4 separate regions of the Homo sapiens genome follow, and all the other regions are linked to region 1. The links come from fine-mapping of genetic effects on gene expression. A gene starts in region 1. Each other region holds a variant in brackets. All regions are shown on one strand. Distances are between the middles of the regions.

What was found.
Region 2: its variant is fine-mapped to the expression of NADK in anterior cingulate cortex (GTEx, PIP 0.99).
Region 3: its variant is fine-mapped to the expression of NADK in whole blood (TOPMed, PIP above 0.99).
Region 4: its variant is fine-mapped to the expression of NADK in whole blood (TOPMed, PIP 0.97).

What each region holds. Positions count from the first base shown.
Region 1 is chr1:1,776,017-1,781,208 of GRCh38, reverse strand. NADK (NAD kinase) reads left to right here and starts at 2,739. Exons shown (of 12, transcript NM_023018.5): 1 at 2,739-2,920. RefSeq lists enhancers at 534-633, 644-713, 724-783, 794-963 and a silencer at 2,024-3,223.
Region 2 is chr1:1,405,419-1,410,418 of GRCh38, reverse strand. It overlaps MRPL20 (mitochondrial ribosomal protein L20), which reads left to right and starts at 3,126. Exons shown (of 4, transcript NM_017971.4): 1 at 3,126-3,288; 2 at 3,400-3,510; 3 at 4,533-4,610. The coding sequence starts at 3,202. It overlaps MRPL20-DT (MRPL20 divergent transcript), which reads right to left and starts at 2,071. Exons shown (of 1, transcript NR_170330.2): 1 at 1-2,071. It also overlaps the pseudogene RN7SL657P. RefSeq lists enhancers at 1-116, 117-1,004, 1,928-2,594, 3,052-3,181, 2,595-3,262 and 1 more and silencers at 2,682-2,871, 3,352-3,411. The variant C/T (reference allele first, on the strand shown) is at 2,338.
Region 3 is chr1:1,751,477-1,756,668 of GRCh38, reverse strand. It overlaps NADK (NAD kinase), which reads left to right. Exons shown (of 12, transcript NM_023018.5): 5 at 61-166; 6 at 326-411; 7 at 1,193-1,295; 8 at 1,971-2,125; 9 at 2,286-2,385; 10 at 2,461-2,618; 11 at 3,020-3,102; 12 at 3,609-5,192. The coding sequence ends at 3,765. It overlaps LOC112268218 (a long non-coding RNA gene), which reads right to left. Exons shown (of 2, transcript XR_002958243.2): 2 at 4,927-5,192. Among named protein-coding and RNA genes, the nearest start is that of NADK, 24 kb to the left of the region's middle. RefSeq lists an enhancer at 3,016-3,545. The variant C/T (reference allele first, on the strand shown) is at 2,027.
Region 4 is chr1:1,871,552-1,876,743 of GRCh38, reverse strand. All of the region lies in intron 1 of GNB1 (G protein subunit beta 1), which reads left to right. Among named protein-coding and RNA genes, the nearest start is that of GNB1, 17 kb to the left of the region's middle. The variant A/G (reference allele first, on the strand shown) is at 2,409.

The DNA.
Region 1 (5,192 bases):
TCGTTCACCCAGTTTACTGGAGCCAGGCCACCTGAAGCCAACTTCCCTCTCTCCTCAGCCTCCCCAGGAGCAACCTGTACCCCAGTGCACCCCATCCTGCTCCATCCCTCATGGCCTCCGTTCCCCCTTCTCCCTCCACCCTCCCCATCCCTGCTGACCCCCAGAAGAGGATGGGTCCAGGTTTTGGGGGTTCTGAAGTAAACAACATGGGAGCCATCCTTAAAGAATACAAAAAACAATGCGAAATTATGTGAAGAGTCCACTGCCACCTTGAGCAATGGCAGCCCTGGGGCTGAGGAAGGTCAGGGCAGGGGATGCCACCCACTGCTGCCCCATCCCTGGGGCCTGGTCAGGCAGGAGGGGGCCTTTCCTGACCCCCAATCCCTTGAAGGCAGAGCCTCTTCCTGTGCACCATCTGGCAGAAGCCCCCATGATAGCCCTGGACCCTTCTGTTCCTGCTGCGGGAACATCTCTTCCCTTTGGTCTCAGCCCAAGCAAAGCTGCCTCTTGGACCATTCTGGGTGCCCTAAGGAGCCTTCCCAGCTTTGGTCTTAGTTATTGCTGGCCAGGCCTGGGGTGAGGTGTGGGTGTGAGATCTTGGCCCCTGAATCTTCAAGGTCATATCCGGGGCCTGCCCTGAGAAATTGCACAACCTGTCAGCTGAAGGAAACCACAGCCCTGGTTTTGTTTTCTCATCTCTGAAACAGGGAAGCTCTCCTGCAGGCAGTGCCCAGGCCCAGGGTAGACAAAGGGTTTTCATGCCACAGACGGGGCAGCTGCTGGAGCTCCCTACACAGCGGGACACGCGAAGGGCACCTGCTGTGTGACCTGGGGCCCACGACAGTCACTGGTTGCCTCTGCAGAAGCAGTTGACTGCCTCCACTCTAGAAGATTCTACTGAGGCCTGGCTCAGTGCCTGGCTTGTGGGTGCGCCATCTAGATCAAGCATTATTATGCTAATGATCATATGCAAAAACTCAGCTCACGCATTATTATGTTAATGATCTTATCCGCCCCCTCTCCCCCCGCCAAAGAAAAAGAACTGGGCAGCTCAAGGCCGCTTCTGTGGGTGTGGCTGGTGGTCACTTTGAAACAGTTGGGTTTGCAAAATAACCCCGGGAGAAGTTACAGAGCTTAAGAAATCCCCCAAGTTCTCATGATCCTTGCTTCCCTTTCCAGTCACCCTTGGTGCCCTGTACTTCACTGTGGTCCTGAACTGAAGAGCTGTGTTTTTCAGGAAGACTTGGCCAGGCCGTGTTCCGTGTCTCTGGATTCAAGTCCCAGGAGTCCTGACCAGAGAGCAGGTATGCGGGTGTGGGGAAGGGCTGCAGAGGACTCAGGTCCACACCGACCCTGGGCCAGGTGATCACACAGAAAGTATAGACAGGGACTGAACCTCAGAAAACAATGGCTGGGCCAGGTGCAGTGGCTTACGCCTATAATCCTAGTACTTTGGGAGGCCGAGGCGGGTGAAGTTTGAGACCCAGCCTGGGCAAAATGGTAAAACCTCATCTCTACACACACACACACACACACACACAAATATATATATATATGAATGAAGTAGTCGAGTGTGGCGGGACCTACTTGTAGTCCCAACTACTAGGGAAGCTGAAGTGGAAGGATCGCTTGCACCTGAGAGGTCAAGGCTGCAGTGAGCCGTGAGCCCGCCACTGGACTCCGGCCTGGGGGACGAATGAGACACTATCTCAGAAAAACAAAACAATGTCTGGCACCTGGGGGACCAGCAGGTTAGAGCAGCTGGTCGTGCATTGCCAGTTTACCTGACAGTGACTCGAGAGCTGAGAACTGGGTATAGGGCACATTATTGGGATATTTGAGGCCTGAAGGCGCTGATGAGCAGCCACCAGTTCAGCAAGTGCGGGCTGGGTGGGACCCGCAGTTCCAACAAACACTACAAAGTCCGCTCCTGTGGCTTTGGCCTCCTCCCCCAACTCCCCGAGTCCTCCAGCCTGTGGGGTGCGCAAAACACGGCTCCCTGGTCCCCCTAGAGGTGCCCCAGGCCACCGGGTCCTCCCTCCACTGCCAGCCTTGGGATCCCAAGCGTAGACCTCTGAGGACGTTCGTGGGCGTGCAAGGCGCACCTGGCCGCTAGAGGTGGGCGTGAGGCCGATCGCGGTTCCCCCAGGCGCAGGGCCGCCCTCCCAGCCCCGACGGACAGCCCCGAGGGAGCGCAGCGCTGCCGCAGCTGCTCTAAGTTTCGGTTCCCAAATCCGGCTCGGCCCACACCGTGTCACAGCCCGGTAATTAGGGAAGCGGCGGCGGGCGGGGCCAGCTCTCGCGGGGCACCTGCACTCCCCTGAGCCGGCCCACGTGGTCCGGGAGGTCCCGCCCGCGGTGGCGGTGAGTTGGGGGCGGGACGCCGGGCTGGGATCACAATGTCGGGGGCGCCTAGGCGTAGACGTGGCGGGCGGACCCGGGGGCGCCCTCCGGACGCGGCAGGTGAGTGGGGACGGGAGCCGGGGGCCGCCCTCCTCGGGGCGCCGACCCCCGCCTACCCGAGTCGCGGACGCCCGCCCCTGTCCCCGCTGCCCGCCTCCACTCCCTGGTCACTGCTCTCCACCGCGATTCGCCCCTCTTCCCCACCGCCCGCCTCTTTCCCGCCACGCCCGCCGCCTCCCGCCCGCGCGGGGTGTCCCGGCGCCGGTGGGACCCGGCAGACGCGCGGGACGCCCCACGTGCGCGGCAGCGCGCATGCGTGGCGGGTGCGCCTGCGCAGTGGGCGGGCGCGGCGCATTGCTGCTCGGCGGCGCCGGCGCCGGGGTCCGGGCGGCCATGGGGCAACAGGCGGCCAGGGCGCCAAGGGCCAGGTAGCGACGGCTGGCGGCGGCGCGGCGGCGGGGCCTGCGGGCTCGGTCCGGCATGTAGACGCCCCCGCAGGCGCCCGCGGCAGCGAACGGTGAGTGAGCAGACCCGGCCTGCCGTCCGCCTGGGGTCGCCCGCTGCCTGGGGTCATCGCTGCCCGCGAGCGCGCGGCCAGGCGGGGAGACACCAGGCCGGCCCTGCCCATCTGGCCTGCTGAGGAGGCCGTGGAAGTGCTGACGGGCCACCGCTCCGTCCCGAATGGGGCACCAGCACGGCCCAGGGCGAGGCTCGGCCTTGGGGACGGGTCTGAGGGAGGCCGCTGTCCGGCCTGGCTCTCCCGGGCGGGGAAGGTGGGGCCGTCCAGCCCGGACCGCGCTTGTCAGTCGCCTCTGCTTGGGCGGCCAGGTCCTCGGTGTCCGGCCTTCCGTGGGTGGTTTCAGCAAGCAGGAGGGGTCTTTGACTCGTGAAAGCTTAGAGGGGCCCAAACCTAGTGGGAAAGTATGAATAAAAGATTCTATACAGCAGTATTGGCATGGAATTCTCTAAAAACACATCTCTGATTTAGTGCCCAGTACTTGCCAGAAAATTCCAATAGTCTATGGTGATGTTCCTACAGGCGGCTGCCATCCAGTAGGTCAGATGTCAGCACCGGCCTTGAGCTCTAGGTCGTCGTTTTTTTTCTTAATTGTGGGAACAGGGCGTGCCCAGCTCCGAAGGCCTGGTGGAGTTTTCCTTCCCAGGCCAAGGACCACCCCCACCCTCCCATCCCTCCTCCCCAAGCAATGAGATTCCTTTTGGCTTCGATTCCGAGTAACAAGTTATTTTTCCTTTCTTGTTTTGGAACACACTAAGTTTTACATTCAAAAGTTCATTATTCTTGGCTCTTGATGGGAATACATTTCAAAACTCTTCTCTTCTTGTGTTCCATGTCTCTCTGACAGCCTTAGTTGGCCTGAAACTGACATGTTTGCCTTAATAAGTTTTTTTTTCCTCCTGATGTCATCTTGTCTAAGAAGCTAGTTACTTTAACACCTTGTTAGATAATTCCCTTCAAGTACTTATTCCCCTGAACATTGTCCTCTCAAGCCTCTGGAAATTTCCTGTCCCCTTGGAACTTCTCTGTAAGGCCTGTTTGCTCTCAGCAGTGACTTCACTGGGACTTTTGCAGCCACTTTATGGTGTTAGCACGCTGATTCCAAGCTACTTGAGGAATCACAGGTGCCACCGCAGTACCCAACAAAATAGCTTCATCATTTGGAGGTGTCCTCTCGAGATGTTTCTGTGTGTATATGTGTGTGTATGTTAGAAACAGGGCCTCACTCTGTCCTCCAGGCGTGTTTATGGTGGCATGATTATAGCTCACTGTAACCTCAAATTCCTGGGCTCAATTGATCCTCCCACCTCAGCCTCCTGAGTAGCTGGGATTACAGGCCTGCACCACCACACCTAGCTGATTTATAAAATTTTTTGTAGAGATAGAGTCTCACTGTGTTGTCCAGGCTAGTCTCAACCTCCTGGCCTCAAGAGATCCTCCTGCCTCCACTTCCCAAAGTGCTGATCTTACAGACGTAAGCCACTTTGACCAGTCTTTTTTTTTTTTTTTTTTTTTTAAGACAGAGTCTAGCTCTGTTGCCCAGGCTGGAGTGCAGTGGCACAATCTCGGCTCACTGCAACCTCCACCTCCCGGGTTCAAGTGATTTTCCTGCCTCAGCCTCCTGAGTAGCTGGGATTACAGGCGCCCACCACCACGCTCAGCTAATTTTTGTATTTTTAGTAGAGACGGGTTTCACTGTGTTGGCCAGGCTTGTCTCGAACTCCTGACCTCGTGATCAGCCCACCTTGGCCTCCCAAAGTGCTGGGATTACAGGTGTGAGCCACCACAGCTTGCCTCACTTGGACCAGTCTTTTTGTTTGTTTGTTTCATTTGAACTTGGAGGTGGGTTTATGTTGTTTCAGTTGGCAGCCTGCTGTTTGGTTCCAAAACAGCATTTTCTTCTTGAAACAACTGCTGTCAGCAGTTAGATTTCCAGGCTAGCACAAAAACCTGTTTGACTCATAAATCCTTGTAGTGAGGGTGTCCCAGAAAGTTGGCCAAGTCAAGAGCAGTTCTTGTGGAGTGGAGGCGGTGAACAAATAGGGGGAAAGTGGCGCTCGTGATGAAAACGGAAAACAATAGTTGATTTTATTGAGCTTCACGCTTGAGGAAATGTAGGTCTCACTTGGAAAATTAAGAGGCAGGTGGGTGTTTGCGGGACTCGACGGCCTTGCATCTGGATTACCTCCAGTCTGCAGGTGTGGTAGGATGACAGCAAGAGGGAGTGTTGAGCACACAAGCCCAGCACTTGGGGGGAGGCTGTGTCATGGCA
Region 2 (5,000 bases), 370 kb after region 1:
ATTGCTGCCCGCGGGTCCCACCTCCAGCCCTAAGGCGGTTTTTCCCCATCTCAGTAGATGGAACATACAATCGGGTTTTATACTGAGACATTCCATTGCCCAGGGACAGGCAGGAGACAGATGCCTTCCTCTTGTCTCAACTGCAAGAGGCATTCCTTCCTCTTATACTAATCCTCCTCAGCACAGACCCTTTACGGGTGTCGGGCTGGGGGACGGTCAGGTCTTTCCCTTCCCACGAGGCCATATTTCAGACTATCACATGGGGAGAAACCTTGGACAATACCTGGCTTTCCTAGGCAGAGGACCCTGCGGCCTTCCGCAGTTTCTGTGTCCCTGGGTACTTGAGATTAGGGAGTGGTGATGACTCTTAAGGAGCGTGCTGCCTTCAAGCATCTGTTTAACAAAGCACATCTTGCACCGCCCTTAATCCATTTAACCCTGAGTGGACGTAGCACATGTTTCAGAGAGCACGGGGTTGGGGGTAAGGTCACAGATCAACAGGATCCCAAGGCAGAAGAATTTTTCTTAGTACAGAACAAAATGGAGTCTCCTATGTCTACTTCTTTCTACACAGACACAGTAACAATCTGATCTCTCTTGCTTTTCCCCACAGTGAGTGTCCCCATCGCTCAGGAAATGCGAGTAATAAAAATCTCCAATAACAACAGCTTCTCCATGTCTCCAGTCAGTCATGTCCATAAACTGAAAATCCTGCAGGTAGGCCAGTTGTGTCTGTAATCCCAGCACTTTGGGAGGCCAGTTTTGAGACCAGCCTGGGCAACATGGTGAAACTCCATTTCTACCAAAAATACAAAAATTGGCCAGGCATGCACTTGTGGTTCAGCTACTCAGGAGGTCGAGGTGGGAAGATCACTCAAGCCCAGGAGGCAGAGGCTGCAATGAGCTGAGATGGCGCCACTGCACTCCAGACTGGGTGAGAGTGAGACCCCATCTGAAAAAAAAAAAGTAGTTTTTCTTCTTCTTGTTTTTTGAGACAAGGTCTTGATCTGTCACCCACGCTAGAGTGCAGTGGTGCGATCTTGGCTCACTGCAGCCTTGGCCTCCCGGGTTCAAGCAATTCTCCCACCTCAGCTGGGATTACTGGGGCCCGCTACCACGCCCGGCTACTTTTTGCATTTTTAGTAGAGATGGGGTTCCACCATGTTGGCCAGGCTGGTCTCGGATTTCTGACCTCAGGTGATCCACCTGCCTCGGCCTCCCAAAGTGTTGTGCAGAGCCACTGCACCCGGCCTCCTCTTTTTTTTTAAGATGGAGTTTTGCTAGTTTCCGAGGCTGGAGTGCAATGAATGGCGGGATCTCGGCTCACCGCAAACTCTGCCTCCCGGGTTCAAGCGATTCTCCTGCCTCAGCCTCCTGAGTAGCTGACCATGTTGGTCAGCCTGGTCATTTAAGGTCGGGAGTTCGAGACCAGCCTGGCCAACATTGTGAAATCCCGTCTCTACTAAAAATACAAAAATTAGCTGGGAGTGGCGGTGTGCGCCTGTAATCCCAGATACTCGGGAGGCTGAGGCAGGAGAATCACTTGAACCGGGTAGGCAGAGGTTGCGGTCAGCCGAGATCGCACCTTTGTACTCCAGACTGGGCGACGGAGCAAAACTCCGTCTCAAAAACAGAAAAAAACAAAACAAAACAAGAAACACAACAACAAATGCAGTGCGTCATCCTAGACTGAATCCTCAACAGGGAAAAAAAGGTATAAAAGACATTTGAAGCGAGTTAAATCTGGAGTGTGGGCTGGGTCCGGATTTTGACCATTCTACGGTGTGGTTCCTAAGAGTAAATACACAGCAAAGTGTTTAGGTGTCTCCAGCGTCTCAAATGGTTTAGGAAAAAAATCCATTATGTTTATATTTACAGAGAGAATGATTCAAAAATGGAGCAAAACGTAAATAGTAGGTGAATTTGGTTCGAGAGTATTAAACAAATGGAACAAATGAAAACAGCTGGCACATTTTGGTAGTGAACACTGGGGAGTTTTCCTTGTACTTGTATTCCAACTCTTCTATGATTTAAAAAATATCCAAGTATAATAAACTGTTATAAAGAAACTGCACACCCCCAATTTTTCGATAATATAGCAGAAATATAAAATTACACATAATATAAAACTTCTTATTTTTTTGGGACAGACTCTGGCTCCGCTGCCCAGGCTGTTGTGCGGTGGTGCAATCTGAGCTCACTGCAGCCTCCACCTCCAGAGCTCAGGCGAGCCTCCCGTCTCAGCCTCCTGAGTAGCTGGGACCTCAGGCGCGCGCCACCACCGCTCCCGGCTAATTTCTTTTTGATTTTTTGTAGAGATGGGGTCTCACTATGTTG[C/T]CCAGGCTGGTATTGAACTCCTGGACTCAAGTGTTCCTCCCCCCTCGGCCTCCGAAAGTGCTGGGATTACAGGCATCAGCACCACAGCGATCACATTTACCATTTCGAAGCTGAGAATTTCCAGGCATGGCGCGGTGGCTCAGGCCTGTAATCCCAGCAGAAGCCAGCAGTCCGAGAACAGCCTGGCCAACGCGGGAAGACGCCCCCTCTACAAAAAACACAAAAAATTAGCCGGGCGTGGCGGCGCGCGCCTGACGTCCCAGCTACTAGGAAGGCAGAGGCCGCGGCGAGCCGAGGTCGGGCCGCTGCACCCCAGCCAGGGCGACCGGGCGAGACCCCGTCTCAAAATGAGTAAGTAAACAAAGTGCAAGGTTCAGAGGCAACGGGCACTTTCACACCGATGCGACCATCTCCACCTCGGTTCCTGAACATCCTCGTGGCCCCAGGGGGCGGCCTGCCCCTCCCCGCCCGCGCCGCACCCGAGCTCCCCGGCCGCGGGGCCCCCGACCCGGGTCCGCTGCCCTCACGGTGCCCTCGGAGCCACAGCTGCGGCCGGGGCCGTGCTCCGGGACGGTCCGCGTGCGCTGCTGTTTATCCATCGTCCGCGAATAGCCACGGGCGCTGCGGCCCCGTTCTCCTTTCAGTCCCCGCCGCGGCCCCACATCCGCTCCCCAACACGCACCACCACCGCGAGTTCAGGAGCACAACTGGGCACCCGCGGGCTGACGGGAGACGACCTTCGCCCCGGAAGTATCGCAGGGGCTGACCCGGAAGCGCTCGTGACCACCATTTCCGACCCGGGCAAGATGGCAGCGGCGCTGCGCGTGCGTTGTTGAGTGTTCGGGACGCCGGCCTGCAGGCGCCATGGTCTTCCTCACCGCGCAGCTCTGGCTGCGGAATCGCGTCACCGACCGCTACTTTCGGATCCAGGAGGTGCTGAAGCACGCCAGGGTGAGTGCCGCCTGCCCGGCCTGGGCACTGGGCGCCCGGGGTATCCCGCGGGCCAAGGGGCGGCCGGCGCGGGCCCCGCTGACAACCCTGGTTTCTCGTTTTCTGTCCCAGCACTTCCGGGGAAGGAAAAATCGCTGCTACAGGTTGGCGGTCAGAACCGTGATTCGAGCCTTTGTGAAATGCACCAAAGCCCGATACCTGAAGAAAAAGAACATGAGGACCGTAAGCGTGGACCCGGGACACCCGCCGGCCAGCGCACTCGCGGCCCCTGCGTTTCTGCGCCGCGACCCAGCTAGTGTGCAGCCGCCCGGCCACCCTCAGCCCCTTCCTTTCATACCTTGCTTCGAAACTCCGACAAATTATGTCGCCCCGCAGGCAAACTGTGGGACATCCGTTCTCCCGCCCCGCCGCCACCCCCACTGTCACCCCCTGCTCCAGCCCCTCGCCCGGGCCACTGCAGAGCCGCCTTGACACTCTCCCTGCGTCGCCAGCCACCGCCCTAGTCGCTGCTGCTCTCATCCCTCCGGTGGCTTCCCTTCCCTTTGGCAGCTGAAGTCAACCCAGCCCCTTGCCAACCCTCCAGGGCTACTATCTGCTGCCGTGGTGCTCCTCGAAGAGACCACGCCTGCTGCCAAGCTCTGCCCACCCGGAACCCCCCGCATTTCTGGGAGGCTGGCGCCTCCACTCTGTCCACGTGCCGCCTCATTACTGCGCCTCACCACTCCCGTCTCAGCCTCATGAACCTAGCATCTAACGTACCCCGGTTTTTTTTTCTTACCCCGAGACGGAGTCTCGCGCTGTCACCCAGGCTGGAGTGCAATGGCGCGATCTAGGCTTAATGCAACCTCGTCTCCCGGGTTCAAGCGATTTTCCCGCCCCAGTCTCCCGAGTAACTGTGACTGCAGGTGTGCGCCACCAAGCTATTTTTTGTATTTTTAGTAGAGACCGGGTTCCGCCATGTTGGTCAGGCTGGTCTCGAACTCCAGATCTGAAATGATCTGCCTGCCTTGCCCTCCCAAAGTGCTGGGATTACAGGCGTGAGACACCGTGCCCAGCTGGGTTTTTGCTGTTTTTAATTTTGAAACAGGGTCTTGATTTCGCTTAGGCCAGAGTGATGGCACCATCATAGCTCACTGATTTTGCTATTTACTTTTAGAAAAATATTCTTTAGATCAATTAGAGGCTTTGCTGGGACATAACATCCAGAAGTCATTTTTAAGTATCTTCATGTTTTCTTATTTCAGCTCTGGATTAATCGAATTACAGCTGCTAGCCAGGAACATGGACTGAAGTATCCAGCGCTCATTGGGAATTTAGTTAAGGTATGGGTGAGTATGTGGGTCCCACTGAAATTCTGGACATCTGCAGAAACCATCATGCGGGGCGTGGTGGTGCTTCCTGTAGTCCCAGCTAATCAGGAGGCTGAGGCCAGAGGATCCCTGGAGACTGACTTCTGGGCTGTAGTTTGCTATGCTGATGGGGTGTCCATGTTAAGTGTGGTATCAATATGGTGACCTCTTGGGAGCAAGGGACCACCACGTTGCCTAAGGAGGGGTGAACCAGCCCAGGCTGGAAACGGAGCAGGTCACAATTCCCATGTTGATGAGTGATGAGATTGTGCCTAGGAATAGTGCCAGCAACAGCCTGGGCAACATAGTGAGACCACTCTCTACAAAAAAATAAAATTTGCTGGGTGTGGTGGTACAGAGACA
Region 3 (5,192 bases), 25 kb after region 1:
CCTCCCTGCAGGAGGGTGGGGTCTGCAGGTGGAATGAGCAGGTTGGCACTTTGCTTCCAGGAGAACATGATCGTGTATGTGGAAAAGAAAGTGCTAGAAGACCCTGCCATCGCCAGCGATGAAAGCTTTGGGGCAGTGAAGAAGAAATTCTGTACCTTTCGAGAAGGTGGGCTGTCAGCAGCTCTGTCCTTGGTTTCTCCAGCACAGTTCCCCGCCCCATTGGAAGCTTCTGGCACTGTTGCCCTTGTCATTGGTGTCTGCGCACTGCGCCACAGAGGGGCCACTGTGTGACAGCCTCTTCTTGGTTTTGCTTTGTGTTTCCTAGATTATGATGACATTTCCAATCAGATAGACTTCATCATCTGCCTGGGGGGAGACGGGACGCTGCTGTACGCTTCCTCGCTTTTCCAGGTGAAGCGCTGACATTTCCAGACCCACACCAGGTTCTAGTCTAGGTGCTGCGTAACGAGGGGCTCACAAGCATGGCTTCCATTGCTTTTCACCCCTTTATACGAGAGCAGTCACCTAGAGCGGCCAGCACTGAGGCCCATGGTGGCAGCCCGGTGGGGTGCGACGGTGGGGCCAGGGGCAGTGTGGACACAGTGCTACGGCTGGGGGTGGCCAGCGCCCGCCTGGGACAGCAGGGAGTGGCGCAGGGTGGTGGGTCCTGGGAAACGACCTCGCCTACTGGCCCATCCCCTCTGGGCCTCCCTTGAGCTCCTCTTCCTGGTTTCTCAGCAGCACAGCTCTCCCCTGGGGCTGTAGGGCCACGCTGTGTGGGGGACCCTGGCTCTGCCCTTGGCCCACTGCATGTTGGTGACACCGGAAATGCCCGCAGCCCGCCCTGCTTTTCTCCCCATCTCCCCATTAGCACCTGTGGGGCGCGAGGCTCCGACCCCAAGGCTGCCTCCCACCCGCCCTCGCCAGCTCCCCCAGCCCTCCGTGCCCAGGGGGCCGCTCAGCCCTGCCACCTTTGTTCCTCACCAGCTCCCCACACCAACCTTGGCCCTGGTGGCCCGGCCCACCCTGGCCTGCGACGTCCCCCTCCGCTTGTCCACATGGCCAGTCCCTCCTGCAGAGGGTCGGGGTGCTGTCCCCACAGAGCTGGGTCCCTCCTGAGGTGCTGCTGGAAAGCTGGGTGGTGCGGGGGTGCACGGCGTGGGCACTGAGTGACCTCTCCGTCGGCTCACAGGGCAGCGTCCCTCCGGTCATGGCCTTCCACCTGGGCTCCCTGGGCTTCCTGACCCCATTCAGCTTTGAGAACTTTCAGTCCCAAGTTACTCAGGTGATAGAGGGTGAGTTGGAATGTTCTGGAGCCCACAGGAGCTCTGATCATGGCGCTGCTGTCTCGCTTGCTTGCGGGGGGTTTATTTTCATTTAATGATGCATGGAGCAACATTTAAAGGTTTCAAGATTCAGGGATTTCTAAATCTTGAGTGGTTCAAACCTTTTACTGACACTGAGAAGTTTCAGCAGATCACAGGTTGAAGCTGCCATGTGTGTTGGGCAGAAGTGAGCTGATTCTCACTCTCAGAAGGCACAGAAGTGTCGGCCGGGCGCGGTGGCTCACGCCTGTCATCCCAGCACTGTGGGAGGTCGAGGCGGGCGGATCACGAGGTCAAGAGATGAGACCATCCTGGCCAACACGGTGAAACCCCGTCTCTACTAAAAATACAAAAATTAGCTGGGCGTGGTGGTGCGCACCCGTAGTTCCAGCTACTTGGGAGGCTGAGGCAGGAGAATCACTTGAACCTGGGAGGCAGAGGTTGCAGTGAGCCAAGATCACACCACTGCATTCCAGCCTGGGTGACAGAGTGAGACTCCATCTCAAAATAAAAAGAAAAAGGCACAGAAGTGTGTCAACTTGGGAGAAGAAAGAGCCCTCTGACTCCCACTGGCCTCCCTGGGGTGGGGCCCCTGACCCCACTGACTTCCCTGATGCATGCCCTCTGACTCCTGCTGGACCTCAGGGAACGCAGCTGTTGTTCTCCGGAGTCGGCTGAAGGTCAGGGTGGTGAAGGAGCTC[C/T]GGGGGAAGAAGACGGCCGTGCACAATGGGCTGGGTGAGAACGGCTCGCAGGCTGCAGGCCTGGACATGGATGTCGGGAAGCAGGCCATGCAGTACCAGGTGAGTGGAGGCGCCTCGGCCTCGGTGAGGGGCCCAGGGTGGGGCGACTTCGGTCCCAGGGATGAGGACCTTCCGGAGAGCCCGGCTGGGTGAGACGGAGGGTGTCTGCGAGCCGTGCGGCATCCCCCGCCCTGAGTGTGCAATGCTGTCGCCCCTCCAGGTCCTGAATGAGGTGGTGATTGACAGAGGCCCCTCCTCCTACCTGTCCAATGTGGATGTCTACCTGGACGGACACCTCATCACCACGGTGCAGGGCGACGGTAAGGCCCGCAGCACTGTCCTGGGGCCCTGAGCGTCCCTCGGGCGGGAGTGACGCCTGCGCCTGTCCCTGTCAGGAGTGATCGTGTCCACCCCGACGGGCAGCACGGCGTATGCGGCCGCGGCCGGGGCCTCCATGATCCACCCCAACGTGCCGGCCATCATGATCACGCCCATCTGCCCCCACTCGCTGTCCTTCCGGCCCATCGTGGTCCCCGCAGGGGTCGAGCTGAAGGTCAGAGCCAACGACACTCCTTTTCCGGTTTGTGAGTCATTTGACCCCGTGCAACACAAAGCCGGGACCTAGCACCCCGCTCTGCCATGCTGGCTCCAGCCTCAGACGCGGCCTCGTCATCCTAGGGCCATCCTGTGCCCCCTCAGATGCAAGCCTTCCCTTGCTGGTGCCCGAGTTCTGTCCATCAAGGTGCCCAGGGCCCGGGTCTGAGGGGCTTTCTGCCATTGTTGGTCTCTGGCGGTGCTGAGCTGGGCCGGTGCCTGTAGGACGTGCACTGCACCGTCCGCAAGGCAGGGTCAGAGCTGCCCAACCTTCGACCTCTGGCGAGCACTCAGGGGTGGGTGCCTAGAAGCGTCCTCCCCACAGCTGGGGGCCCACACCTCTCCCTGCTTGACCCTCAGATCATGCTGTCACCTGAAGCAAGGAACACAGCATGGGTGTCCTTTGATGGACGGAAGAGACAAGAGATCCGCCATGGAGACAGGTGTGGGCTGCATGCCGGGCTGGGCGCTGCCTGCCAACCTCCTCCCCGGGCCAGGCAGCGCCTGCCCTCTTGCGGTTGGCCTGTAGACACAGCTTGTCCCCTAGGGCACCACAGGGCCTGAGTCCCTGGGTCTTGCAGCATCACAGTCGGGGCACCCGTCCTGGGGGCAGCGGGTCGCATACGGTGGCACATGCAGGCCTGGCCCCAGCAGAGGCCTGAGGGTGTCCCCCCTGGCACTGCTGCCCACCCCCACCCACCTCCTGGGACCTCACCCCTGAGGGCCCTGGGGCAGAGTTTGTCAGTTCCCTGCACCGTCCCCTCCAGGACCTGGGATGGCTCTGTCCCAGCACCCATGGGGCACTGCTCAAGCCTGCCTCGGGGAGGGGCTGCCCGGCCCCACAGGAAAAGAGTCCCGGCCATTCCCAGGGAGGGAGGGAGGAAGGGTTCTTGGCCGGGGGTGGGCCTTTCTGGAAGCCCTGGCTCAGGCTGCTGCTCTCCCGTCCCAGCATCAGCATCACTACCTCATGCTACCCGCTCCCCTCCATCTGTGTGCGGGACCCCGTGAGCGACTGGTTTGAGAGCCTCGCCCAGTGCCTGCATTGGAACGTCCGGAAGAAGCAAGCCCACTTCGAGGAGGAGGAGGAGGAGGAGGAGGAGGGCTAGGTCAAGCCCCTATCCAGGCCCGAATCCTTCCGCTGCCCTCCAAGCGCCCTCTGGGGACAGACCAATCTGCGTGTGTCTGTGACCGCCTGTCTCAGTGGCACGGCCACTTCCTTTCTGTAGCTGGGTTAGAGCCTGGGTCTGCCTTTTGTCCAGATCAGCTGTTTTTTTAAAATGTCTGACTTTTTTTGCATTTCTAAAGAAGCGTGAGAAATGGGCTGGGAGTGCTTCTGTCCTGCTGACACCCCGCGGTGGGTCCCTGGAGCGCGGCCTCCAGCTGCCGCAATTTCCATGCCAGGATATTTTTCCGCAAATCAGTCGGTTGAAATTCAGAGGAGTCAGAATGACTCGACCTGTCCTTCAATGTTGATAATAAATGTCTCAGCCAAAAACCTTCCTTGAGCTGCCATGCTTTTCCCCTTGACCTGCACCTCTTCCCCTAAAACTTCTGCAGGGAAGCCCCTGGCGGAGGCGCCATTGAAAGCATGGTCTTGCCAGTGGCTGGCAAGGCGGTTTTGTTCTGCTCAGTTTCTGGAGAGGGTTGGATGCGTCCCCTGCCATCCAGCCCTCCCCGCTTGAGGCCAGCACTGAGTCTGGGACACTCAGCGGGAAGGGGGCTGGCATCGCCAGCGACCCACACATTCCTCACGTAGCTTCTGCTCCCAGGAAGGTAGTTTAAATCCTGTATATACTTTTTAGAGACTCTTTTAAACTTTCTGAAGTGCTGATGTACATACTTTCTCGTACACACTTTTGTGAAGATTTCAAGGGGAAGGGAGTCGTCTGCCATTCAATGTTTACATTTATGTTCTGCAAGACGCTGTCCTCAGGGACCATTAGGGGACCATTCTGTTCAGTGCGATCCTGATGGTCCGGGAGATGAGGGTTTCCGGGGCTAGTGATCGTGATCCCTTTTATTTGCAACTGTAATGAGAATTTTTCACACTAACACAGCGAGGGACTCAACACGCTGATTCTCCTCCTGCCTCTCCCGTGAGTCTCCAGCCTGCCCAGCACCGGCAGCTGTGGAGCACGTGGATGCTGCCTACCCCGGCGCCCGCGTCTTCCACGGGCACAGGTGTGTGGAGGCCGTGGTCGGACCCTGGTGTCCTGGTTACTGCTGCCCGGGTGTCTTTTTTTTGAGTAACTGCTCTCTGAGTTTTGCACACGAAGTTGCCCTCATCTGCTGGAGATCGATAAGGAAGGCACAAGACGTTCTCCTCTGCCCGTGAGGAGCTTCCCGCAGCCGCCTGGCCCAGCCTGGGCACGTTCTCCGAGGCATGTGTCTCCCTGCTCACCCTCGTCTGGGCACCTCAGCATCTGTGGACTTGAGCGTCCAAAAACCCTGAGTGTGATTCTGGGCAGCCGGCCTGGCTTGAAGTCCGCCATGACCCTGGGCACAGGGGAAGCCCAGCCGTGGGCTTAGGAGA
Region 4 (5,192 bases), 96 kb before region 1:
CTCAAAGTGTTAGCTTCCAGTACCGCTACTACTGATGGTGTTTGACTCTGCCTTCATTCCTGAAATGCTTCTCCATTGACTGGGTGTGGTGGCTTATGCCTATGACACTTATCACTTTGGGAGGCTGAGGTGGGAAGATTGAGACCAGCCTAGGCAACATAGTGAGACCCCATTTTTGCATGTGTGTGCGCTTGCTCACTGGCTCGTGCACGTGGCCATGCACGCTCGCTCTCTCTCTCTCTCTCTCTCTCGTGTGCACATGCATGTCCTCTCTCTTGCTCTCTCTTTTTCTTAGCTGGGCCTGATGGTGTACACCTGTAGTCCCAGCTATCCAGGAGGCTAAGGTGGGAGGATTGCTTGAACCCAGGAGTTCGAGGCTGCAGTGACCTGATTGTACGACTGCACTCCAGCCCTGTCTCTATTAAAAAAAAACAAGTCCTTCTCCAAGCTGATCTGGGCACTTGATTTCTACCCTTGTGGTTCTGGCTTAGTAAAGGTCTTCAGAAATGACACAATGTTAGTTTCCTGTGGCTGCTGTAGCAAATCATCACAAGTTGGATGGCTCAGAATGAATTGATTCCCTCAGTTCTGGAGGACAGAAGTCTGAAATCAAGGTGTTGGCAGGGCCCCAGTGCTTCTGAAGGCTCCAAGGGAGGACACTTCCTTTCTTCTTTCTGGCTTCTGGTGGGTGCCAGCAGTGTGGCTTGTAGAGGAGTCACTCTCTACCTCTGTTTTACGTGGGCTTTTCTCAGTGTCTCTACTCACCTTATAAGGACATAGTTATTAGATTAGGGCCACCCTAATTCAGTATGACCTCGTTTTAACTTAACTAATCATACCTGGAAAGACGCTCCAAATAAGGTCACATTCCCAGGTTCCAGGTAGACATGAATTTTGGGGGGGGGGACACTGTTGAACCTGCTAAAGTTCCTAGAGCTTCATCCTTCGCCCCTTGTGTTTCTAGCTCTCTTGCCTTCCATGTCTTCCCATTCCCCTTGTGGCCAGCCTTGTGAAATGAAGTCTCTGTTGGAGGTTGAAGAAACTTGTAAGATAATTTACATAGAAAAAGGGGCCGGATGCAGTGGCTCACTCCTGTAAGCTCAGCACTTTGGGAGGCCAAGATGAGAGGATCACTTGAGCCCAGGAGTTTGAGGCTGCAATGAGCTATGATTGTGCCACTGCACTCCAACCTGTGACAGAGCAAGACCCCGCCTCTAAAACAAAACAAAATAGAAAAGGTAAAGTGTCCTTGGCCAGGTGTGATGGCTCACACCTGTAATCCCAGCACTTTGGGAGGCCACAGCGGGTGGATCACTTGAGGCCAGGAGTTTGAGACCAGCCTGACCAACATGTGAAAACCCCGTCTCTGCTAAAAACACAAAAGTTTAGTGGGGTGTGGTGGCGTGCACCTGTAGACCCAGCTACTTGGGAGACTGAGGCATGAGAATCACTTGAACTGGAGAGGTTGAGGTTGCAGTGAGCTGAGATCACACCACTACACTCCAGACTGGTAGGCAGAGCAAGACTTTGTCTCCAAAAAAAAAAAACCAGAAAAAGATAAAATGTCTTCTAAGCATGGGCCCCCAACTCCTGGGCTGTGGTCTCTTAGGAGCCGGGCTGCACAGCAGGTGAGAGGTGGGCAAGCGAGCATTCCCACCTGAGCTCCACCTCCTGTCAGATCAGCGGCAGTGTTAGATTCTCATAGGAGCGTGAACCCCGTCATGAACTGCACACGCGAGGGATGTAGGCTGTGCACTCCTTATGAGAATCTAATGCCTGATGATCTGAGGTGGAACAGTTTCATCCCAAAACCATCCCCTCTGTCTGTGGAAAAATTGTCCTTCACAAAACCGGTCCCTGGCATCAAAAAGGTTGGTGACCGCTGCTGTAAGGATTCTGGATGCTTCACAGAACGAAGCTCAGGAGGCACTTTTTTTTTGTCTTTTTTTTTTGAGACAGGGTGTCACTCTTTGTCACCCAGGCTGGACTGCAGTGGCACCATCTCAGCTCACTGCAACTCCGCCTCACAGGCTCAAGCAATTCTCCTGTCTCAGTCTCCCAAGTAGGTGGGACTACAGGCGTGTGCCAGCATGCCCAGCTAATTTTTGTACTTTTTTTTTTTTTTTTTTTTTTTTTTTAGATGGAGTCTTGCTCTGCTTCCCAGGCTGGAGTGCAGTGGTGCAGTCTCGTCTCACTGCAACCTCTGCCTCCAAGGTTCAAGCAGTTCTCCTGCCTCAGCCTCCCGAGTAGCTGGGACTACAGGTGCACACCGCCACGCCCGGCTTTCTCTGTACTTTGGTAGAGACGGGGTTTCACCGTGTTGCCCAGGCTGGTCTCCAACTCCTGAGCTTAGGCAGTCCGCCCGCCTCAGCCTCCCAAAGTGCTAGGATTACAGACACGCGTGAGCC[A/G]CCACGCCCGGCCTAATTTTTGTATTTTTAGTAGAGACAGGGTTTTGCCATGTTGACCAGGCTGCTCTTGAATTCCTGGCCTCGTGATCTGCCTGCCTCGGCCTCCTAGAGTGCTGGGATTACAGGCGTGAGCCACCGCACCTGGCCAGGAGGCGCGTTGTGTTTATGCTTTGCTAGTCTTTCTTTTGTGGGAACTGAAGAGTGTTGTCCTCGGTAGCTTCCACAGGGATGGATCGAGGCTGCTGCCAGCATTTGTTCCACTGACTGTCCTTGGGGACCAGTAACCTAGATCAGAAGTCAATGAGAAGACATAAAGAATGCCTCCAAAGCAGGGAATCTTTCCTTCCCCTGTGAAAGTGCTGAGTCCCCTAGAGGCAGGTATGCGTTCCCTCTTGTATTTAGTCCCCACGCTGCCTGCCTGGATACATTGGTGGTTGTGACAGCTGGGGTGTGCCACAGGGATCCTGCTCCACCATGGAGAATTGTCCAGTCCAGCAGTCTCGGTGCCAAGTTTATTTAAGATGGAGTCTTGCTCTGTCGCCCAGGCTGGAGTGCAGTGGCACCATCTTGGCTCACTGTAACCTCTGCCTCTGGGGTTCAAGCAATTCTTCTGCCTCAGCCTCCTGAGTAGCTGGGATTACAGGTGACCCGCCCACCTCGGCCTCCCGAAGTGCTGGGATTGCAGGTGTGAGCCACTGCGTCCAGTCTCGGCGCCAAGTTTAAGAAGAGCATATTGTCATGGCCTTACATCAGTTATATGCTCCTGGGTAACAAACTACCCCAAAATGAAGCGACTTAAAACAGTAAGTCCTTGTTCATCATCATGTGGGAGTATGGATGTGGGCAGGGCTCATCTCTGTTCACTGTGCTGGCCACGCTAGCAAGGGCAATTAACAGTTGGCAGGTAGGCTGGCTTGTGCTTCCCATTGCCCTCACCCACATGGGCTTTCAGCCAGGGTGCCTCTGATCTCCTCAGCCTGCCTCTCCAACAGTCTAGCTCAGGCTTCCTCCCATAGTGGCTGAATTCCAAAAGGGCAGGAGCAGAGTTTGACAGGCTACTTGAGGACATGTTTAGAAGTCACAGTGTCACCTCTGTTGCATTCCCTTGCTTATTGCAAGTTATGAGGCCTAGCATAGGCCAGGAGTGCTGCCTCATGCCTGTAATCCCAGCCCTTTGGGAGGCCAAGGTGGGAGGATGGCTTGAGGCCAGGAGTTTGAAACCAGCCTGGACAACATAGTGAGACCGCATCTCTACCGAAAATGAAGAAAAAAAAAAAAACAAGGCTTAGCACAGGCTTGGAGAGTAGGAGATAGACTCTGGTCCTTAATGGTGGGACTTGCAGAAACCGTGGCCATTTTTCATCACAGCCTTTCCTATACTGTGTGACCTCAAGAACTTCCTGCTTTAGGATGCCCAGTTAATAATATGGTATCTGTGGGATGGAGTGAACTCTTTAACAAATATTTACCAAGTACTTACTTTGAGCAAGACACTGTGCTTGGTGATGGTTGAGTACCGAGAAGTTGCAACTGGTGGTTCATTCTCTGTGGGGAGATGGCGAACTGGAAGAAGCGAAGTTTGGGCCTGTGGTAGGTGCTGTGAGCTGTTGGGTGGAGAGGGCACTTGGTTTAGGGTATTGTTTAGGGTATTTAGAGTAAAGGCCTGAAGGATGAGAAGGAACCAGGTAGGCAAGGAGCCCCTATGCTTCAGGTGGAGAGGGCAGTGATTGCAGAGGCCCTGCGGAAGGGACAGCAGGCGAAGCTCAGCAGAGGTCCTGCGGAAGGGACAGCGGGTGAAGCTCAGCACACAGGAGCAAAGCTGTAGGGCAGAGGTAGGGGTGGAAGCCAGGCCTTGGCCACACGGCCTCAGGCAGGTGCCAGAGGCCCAGTTTGCCCAGGACAGTCTTGATTTATACCAGGTGAGGGTCCTCGTGCAGATGGTGCATTCTCTAGTTTCCAAACTGGCAGAGAGCTTGGATGTTTTCCTTGATGCAGTGGGAAGCCGTTGAAAAATTTTAAGCCTCAAGTGACAAAAGGTGAATTTTAAAAGATTGTTGAGGCTGGGTGCAGTGGTTCATGCTTATAGTCCTAACAGTTTGGGAGGTTGAGACAGGAAGATTGCTTGAGCCCAGGAGTTCAAGACTCTGTCTCTACTTAAAAGAAAAAATTAGCTGGGCATTGTAGCATACACTTGTAGTTCCAGCTACTGGGGAGGCTGAGGAGGGAGCATCGCTTCAGCCCAGGAGTTGGAGTTTGCAGTGAGCTATGATCACACAACTGTACTCGAGTCTGGGCAACAGAGCGAGACCCTGTCTTAAGAAAAAAAAAAAAAGAAAAAAGATTGTTCAGATTGCTGAATGAAAAATGGATTGTCGGGGGCACAGATTGAGACAGAGGTCATTTTAAGGAGACTGTTGATGAGAAATGGCGTGGTTTGGCTGAGGATGGAGACTAAGGAAATGGGAAGAAATGGGTGGTAGAGTCAGCCAGGTTGCTGATGGACCGGGTGTAGGGGAGTAGGGAAAGGAAGGAGGCCAGGATGATTTCTGTGTGTGCTTTGCACATGTAGAGGGTGGTGATGTTGAGCACTGAGGGGAGGCAAATCTGTTGGCTGTGCAGAGCCATGCCTTGAATATCTGAAGCTCAAAATGGGTATAGGGCAACTAAGTGCCAACCGCCGGCTAACAGCCTGTTGGCCTGGAGTCCAGTCTGGAAGTCTTGGTCTTTCTGTTTTTGTGATGGTCGGTGGAGGGGTTATTAAAAGGAGAGGTGGGGTGCCCAGCT